Linked DNA regions of Homo sapiens. The protein of the gene in region 1 interacts with the protein of each later gene in a pairwise test. Each region holds a gene or a part of one and is shown on either strand. Other genes may lie near its edges. The genes, in order: HIVEP1 and SP4.

The links.
Region 2: the proteins of HIVEP1 (region 1) and SP4 interact in a two-hybrid assay, tested with the Homo sapiens proteins (one large-scale study listed by BioGRID).

Annotation. Positions count from the first base shown.
Region 1 is NC_000006.12:12,018,714-12,022,536, forward strand, and holds part of HIVEP1 (zinc finger protein 40), read left to right. Parts: intron 1-1,534; exon of another isoform or gene 1,535-1,638; coding exon of another isoform or gene 1,639-1,705; intron 1,706-3,823.
Region 2 is NC_000007.14:21,511,486-21,515,308, reverse strand, and holds the end of SP4 (transcription factor Sp4), read right to left. Parts: 3' UTR 487-3,823; downstream 1-486. UniProt on the Homo sapiens protein: Binds to GT and GC boxes promoters elements. Probable transcriptional activator.

The DNA.
Region 1 (3,823 bases):
CTGACAAGGCAAAGTGAGTGCATTTCATCCTGGGGTAGCAGGTTGTGAAATAACTTGGGGACTCTGAGCAACTTTAAATGGTTCTCTACTTCTAGAGCATAAGAAGTTCTCTTCAGGAGGGATGAGAAGGAGACAGAGAGGCAGGATACTGGAGCAGGAGAATCAGGAGGAATCAGATCAGGAAAGGCCCTCAGATTTAAGCCTACATTTCATATGTAGAGTTAAAAGTTTTAATAAGAAAACTTGCTTCTTTAAGATATTTTTAAAGTTTTCAAAGAGAACTTGGAATAAATTGTGTCTGACTTGTCTGTGAGCGTTTAGGAAGTTGTTTGACTAAGGTAGTTAAGAACTCACAGCCACTAAAGAAAAGATTGGAATAGATTAGCTCTAGTAAGCACACTAAAGCCACCTCAGTGGGACTTCTGATGGGGAAGGGGAAGACTTCAGGGAAGCGGCGGCTTCTGAGCCAGTGTAGCTCACTCAGCAGCGGGGGACGGGAGTGAAGCTCTAGGTCCCCATGGGAAACCCTGAGTAAGCAAAGGGACAGAGGGGTTGGTGCTCGGCGGTGACACCTAGAAACTTCCGCGCTCCTCACAATGTCTGTAAGGACTCGAGCCCTGGGAAGGATGTGGGGGTTAGAGTAAGCAGGTAACCATCAGCTCCTGAGATTAATTTTTGAGCGTATCTTTAATATCTCATTGTGACAGTTTGGAATATCAGGTTTGTTGTGCCCTACCTGTGATCCACTGCTTTGCTTTACTAGAAGACATCTCTAATGCGATGAGATAAGAAATGCGGGGAGAGGAAATTGGGAGACCAGAAGAGGAGTCACAGCCCAGTTTGCCCCTACTGTTTCTGCCGTCAGCTCAGGAGCTTTCAGGAAACCCATCGCCTCTTTTTAGGCTTCCTGGGGGAAATAGTCTGAAATGTTTGTCTTGTGCTTGGTAATCAAGTCCGTATTAAAAGGCAGATACCTGATACTTTCTCAAATTATATTTTTCTTATGCTTCCATGGTAGTTTCACCTCTTAGAATGTAATCTTTCTTTGATTTATTCTTGGTTCTCCTGCTGGGACAGATATATCCCTACGGATGTGCAAAGCCACAGGGTAACATGTATCTTTCAGGAATGTGAATTTTACTTGGGGAAAAATACGTATACTTGTCTGTGTGTGCACACGTATACACATATTAAAGTATTAGGCAAGCATAAAAATGTGCAATACCGGAATCTATCATGGAAGAGTATAGAAAGTTTGCATGGATTTGAAAATTAAGCCTGCATAGACTGCTTTTATAAGGAGATGGAGTATCTACTTCTTTGCTCTTAGAGGTTGTTTACTAGAAAAGGTATAAGAAGAATTGTTAGGTTAAGGGCAGGAAACAAATTGGGGACATAAGTGAGACAGTGTCCGACTTGATGGGTGATCTGTATACTGTGTAGGACTGTGGTTTTGTTGAATTCAGTCTCTTCACCCTTGGCCCAGCGTTAAACCAGATAGAATCAGTTCTCCATGCCTGTTTCCCATCTGCAGGAAACGTGGTGGGTGCCGTTTTGACACCGACCTATCCTTTGTGAGGTTGAAGAATTTTGGAAGAGCATGAGAGCAGCACTTGGTGTTCAGAAGAAAGGCTTAGCATGTTGTCCTGGGTTCCGTGGAGAAGGGTCACTGGACTGCACGGGGTGGCTCTTCCGCATGGTCTTGGTGAGTTGACAGCAGGGCAGCGCTGTGTCTCCCAGCCATCATTCCTTACTCATCGCTGCTCTGTGGAGGGGTTATCTCCACCACCTTCTCAGGCCTTCGCTTGGACCCTTGAGTAACATGGAATGGAGGAGTTGGTGACTTGCAGGGGGTTCCATGCCTCTTCCGTTGTGATAAAGGGCTCTATTCGTGTTTTGCCACTCATTCTTGTGAATGTGTTTCAAAGCTTTGAAAAAAAGGAAAAGAGGTGTTACTTACTTTAGTTGTATTTGGGCCTAGGGTTTCAGAGCTTCATTTCCTTTAAGATTGGAAGTCAGTGTGGAAAATACTAAGTATTAACCTTTTGCAAAACATGTTTTGAAAATTTGGTGTAGCTGTTTTTCATTTTTATTGGTTGAGTTCATTTGGCTCCGAACACTCTGCAAAAAATGAGAACTCTTTTCCTGTCTGAGAACCAGATTTCTTTCTTTCTTTCTTTTTTTTTTTTTTTTTTGAGACGGAGTCTCACTCTGTCACCCAGGCTGGAGTGCAGCGGTGTGATCTTGGCTCACTGCAAGCTCCACCTCCCAGGTTCAAGCCATTCTCCTGCCTCAGCCTCCCAAGTAGCTGGGACTATAGGCGCCTGCCACCACGCACAGCTAATTTTTTTGTATTTTTAGTAGAGACAGGTTTTCACCACGTTGGCCAGGCTGGTCTCAAAACTTCTAACCTCAGGTGATCCAACCGCCTCAAAGTGCTGGGATTACAGGCGTGAGCCACCGCACCCGGCCCAGACTCCTTAAAATGTGAGAAGTAGCACTGAGGAATGTGATCAGATCATGGCCTTGATTGACACATGGGGTCGCTTTCCACGGTTGGCCTTCTTGTTCTCCACGGCATCTTGTGCATAGCCATTTGCCATTTCAGGAGCTCAGCATGCACATCCGGTATTTCTGTGCTTGGTTGTCTTTCTGGAAGTTACTTCTTCTCCTTTTCCATTTCTACTGTTTTCTTACTCTGTATGGGAGATGTCTCTGCTAAAGATTTCACCTCTGAGTTTTTTCCCCCATTTTCTGTTCTCTTGTCAGATATCCTCCTCCCCTCCACAGACATGCCCTGGGTCTCCTTTGCTTGTGTCCACATGTGCCTTCTTGTACTTACAATATTACATCATGATCATTCTTCTCCAGGTCTCTTATCTTAGCGGGATTATAATATGTTAGAAGAGACCATTTTGGTCATCTGTGTGCAACAGAAGAATATTTGGTTGTGTTAACTTTTTGTTTTTGAGACGGAGTTTCACTCTTGTTGTCCAGGCTGGAGTGCAGTAGTGCTGTCTTGGCTCACTGCAACCTCCGCCTCTAGGGTTCAAGCAATTCTCCTGCCTCAGCCTCCGGAGTAGCTGGGATTACAGGCCTGTGCTACCACCCCCGGCTAATTTTGTATTTTTAGTAGAGACTGGGTTTCACCATGTTGGCCAGGCTGGTCTTGAACTCCTAACCTCAAGTGATCCACCCGCCTTGGTCTCCCAAAGTGCTGGGATTACAGGCATGAGCCACTTCACCTGGCCTGGTTGTGTCAACTTTTTAGCAAACTAGAGGGTTGAGATGATTTATACTCAGGGAATTTGTTTACATTTTTGAACCTCGAGTAGGAAATGCTTCTTCCAATATTTGGTAGCTTCTGATTAAAAACTTGTGATAATTTTAATTGCCTGAACAGATAAACCAGGTGGTTATTGTTAACTTTTGTTTTATATGAAATTTTACTTCACATACAGGATTTTTTTTTTTTGAGACGGAGTTTCACTCTGTCACCCAGGCTGGAGTGCAGTGGCACGATCTTGGCTCACTGCAACCTCCACTCTCCAGGTTCAAATGATTTTCCTTCCTCAGCCTCCTGAGTAGCTGGGACTACAGGCTCCTGCCACCGCACCCAGCTAATTTTTTGTATTTTTAGTAGAGATGGGATTTCACCATTTTGGCCAGGCTGGTCTTGAACTCCTGACCTCGTGATCCACCCGCCTCGGCCTCCCAAAGTGCTGGGATTACAGGCATGAGCCACCGTGCCTGGCCCATATACAGGATTTTTATAGCTTATCCATTTGGTACATTTAATTACTATAAAGACAAAGAGTTTGGC
Region 2 (3,823 bases), on another chromosome or scaffold:
GCCACCCTGGGCCAAACCCTCGCTTTGCTATGTCTATATCTGGTGTGAGTCTGGAAATGTGTTAGCTGAAGTTGTTACAATAATGTATTCATTATGTTACTAAAGGTCTTCATGAGATTTGCAGGGCTCTCCCAGGAGGAAGACAGTTTCTGCTTGTAGTCTTTGTGGCATCTATGTGGCCTATATTGCTTCTCAGTGATTCTGTGAGCTTAAATAATATTTTAATTATGTTTTTCGTTTTCAGGTCTTCCTATAATTTCCTAACATTGATTGCTTAAAATATTTAAGTAAAAAGTGTCTCTAAATCAAATTTTAATTTCCATAAATGTCTAGAGCAATGGCTACAAATTAACATGCAATTTGAATTGGAGTTCTTTGGCGGTATGTTCAGAGAAATGGTGACCAGATCTCAATACGAGGAATTACGAACGGTGGCCAATGTGTTCTCCAGTGAGAAGCATTTAACTCTCCAGTGTTCATGATAAGTAGGTTGATAGTTCAAATAATTTATTGCTGCTTTATAGTATACATAATTAAATGAAACATGTTAAACTCAAGGGAATTTTTAATAGGTTACTTGCAATTGTTATTGCAGGCAACAACTTGTACATGATTTTATTTCCAAATCCACAAAAAACAAATTTTATACAAATCAGCACTGTAAAAATGTCAATTACAGCCCCAGAGGCTTTGCTGGCAGAATAATTGTCTAAATTCTAGAATATGGGAAACAGGTTTTTTTCTGGATTCATCTTTTTTTTTCATTTTTTTTTTTTTACAAAAAAAATTTACAAGTGAAATGTTACTACAAAACTTTTTATAAGGAATTTTTGCAAAACATTTACATTTTACCATCAACTATTTCTGTTTTAAAATCATTATGTAGATTTAATACCCTATGCTGCACATCAATTTATGTGGGATGACAACTTAGTGACATGCATAAAAAAACACCACAAGGCATTAAAATGGAGACTTAAATACAAATATTGTTGCAATAAAACAGTTATAAAATTGAAAAATAGGACCTAAACATCATGCTTATCTAAGTTTGACAAATTAACTTTTTCTCCTAGATTACACACTTTTATTACTGCTCTCATGAGAGTGTGATAAATGACTTAACATCAAGTTCTAATGTAATCAGCAACACATACACAAACCTAACCAAAGAAAGTATACTGTAAGAAAAAACTATTCTAACACTGGAGTTTTACCATGATAAATACATAGCTTTGCACTGATAATTACAATAAAGAAAAGTTTTATAACGGTGGTAAAGGGAATGAACAGTGAAATGCCATTAAACAAGACTCTACTGCACATCTGTGCCCTATTACTTATAACAGCTATATCCCACTGAGTCAAATAAAGGACACTGAAATTTACGATTCTTCTAAAGACAGAAAAGTAGACTCAGAATGGTATGCAGAACAGACTGTCAAAATATTTCTAATTTCAGTGGTGAAATGTGCACCTGCTAACACAAATTAACATATTTTATATGCTATAAAGCTATCTAGATTCATCTGATAAATTTATAATAGGCCTCATTGTTGATTAAAAAATAACTTCCATTTCTAATGGACATACATAGGTTTGCATTAGAACTGGTTCATGGAATAATGATGCAGAGTGTTCATACTTGGTATTAACAACAACAAAAAGTGTCACTCTGAGGAAACATGATTAAAACATTAAGAAAGTTTCTTTGCATAAAAAAATTTATAGCACTGATTGTGTAGCATAATGATAGATAAAATATATATTTGATGTTTCAGCTCCTATATAATAAAATTAAAATGAACACTACCAAATGCTCCTCTGTACCAAACAAAACAACAAACCAATTCTGATGTTTTAAAGCCAGATACATCAGTTGTTAAGAGTACATTAAATAAAATATACAAAACAATTTACAAAATCCAACTTAAATTTAAAGACTCTGTTACAAGTCTACAAAAGCTTTAAGAAACTTGAAATTTATAACCACAGTGTAAAAATTTTTTTTTTCCTTTAATCTCAAAGCTTTTTTATACAAACTGAAAGCACAAAAGACCTTCAGTTTTATATAACGCTACAAAGGGCTGGCCTAAAGTGTACATAGTGTAAACAGTGATCATTACAGTATTTCTCCTTCATCAAAAATACAAGAAACATCACAATTTTGGAAGAGAATTCGCATTAGTACTTTTCCTGAAATTATAGAGAATGCACAAGAAAACACGTACCTATATTCAAACAGTCCCCAAAGCAATGATGTTAATAAATTGAGCAGGTAGGTAAAAACTTTTAGTTTTCAAATGGTCAATTTCACTGATTATGATTCTGTGTAAATACTTTTTTAAAACATAAAATATCCTTATTAATATTTAAGTTACTGGTTTATAATCCAATTTTTTTCATATGAAACTTTTGGCCATCTTTCCTAGTAAGACCCTTTCCTAGCCGGGCATGGTGGCTCATGCCTGTAATCCCAGCACTCTGGGAGGCCGAGGTGGGCAGATCACCTGAGGTCAGGAGTTTGAAACCAGCCTGGCCAACATGGCGAAACCCTGTCTCTACTAAAAATACAAAAATTAGCCAGGCATGGTGGCAGGCGCCTGTTAATCCCAGCTACTCAGGAGGCTAAGACAGGAGAATCGCTTGAACCTGGGAGGCGGCGGTTGCAGTAAGCTGAGATCGTGCCATTGCACTCCAGCCTGGGCAAGAGAGCGAGACTCCATCTCAAAAAAAAAAAAAAAAAGACCCTTTCCTGTAAGACCCTTGCATAAACAATAATATAGTTTTTTTCTTTAGTCACTTACTTCACTGAAAATTATTCTGCCTTTTCAAAAATAAAAGTTTTGCTTCATAATATATCTATTATATATTAGGCTAATTTTTAGGGAAAATTCAGTTATTGATGTAACATAAAAACATTACTGTGTTATAATTCCTAATTACCTTCTTACATAGCACTAGAAATAAAATGGGACTGGCCAATTTTTAGTAGAGGAAAACAAGAATTACAATGTAGTTAAAAGAGAATTTTCTGCTGGCCTTGGAAAAAAGTGTAATTCTTTCTTTGGCTACCACATCAAAGCATAAAGAATTCTGCACATTGTCAACATAACTCATATTTACAAAATATGAAACTACAGAACAATTTACACTCTATGCAAATATTTCCAAATATAAACATTTTAAATGAAATTTTGTGGTTCAACCTAGGGTTAGGAATATAATCAATCCTAACTTTAGAACATTGCATGTTAAGATGCCTCATTTTATTTTTCTGAAGCTATGATGAGTTTTGTTTTAACCATTTTTTTCCCAGCATTTTCCTAAGGTGTCAACCTAAAATTTAACCTAAGATTTAACTCTATGTTCCTCTTGTGTCTCCAAATGGAGAAAGTAATTGGACTTCACTGATTGTCTGCATACACACTACTATAATGTAGTGGTAATAAAGATCTGAGATGCATCTCAGATTACTGTTTTGGAACTTACCTAATTCAACTGTTGAAGAATTTCTAACATTTAGAAAAGACGGCCAAACTATTTTCGGTTGATTTTCCAAAAATCAAGCTAAGGAAATACAGTATTATCCCTATCATCAGTTAACTATCTGTTTTCTGTGCTATAGAGAAAAAGAATACACGTAAATTATTACTGACTGAATTTATAACAAAGTACTTTCAAAGAAAATAAGTCCAATTAAGGTCCAGCCTGCAAACTACTAAGGTCTTTTTAAACATGTTAACACATGATATTAAGAGATGGGAAGATTCTGTATAAAGGTTATGTGATATATTTCCAAACAACTACAACTTATAGTATG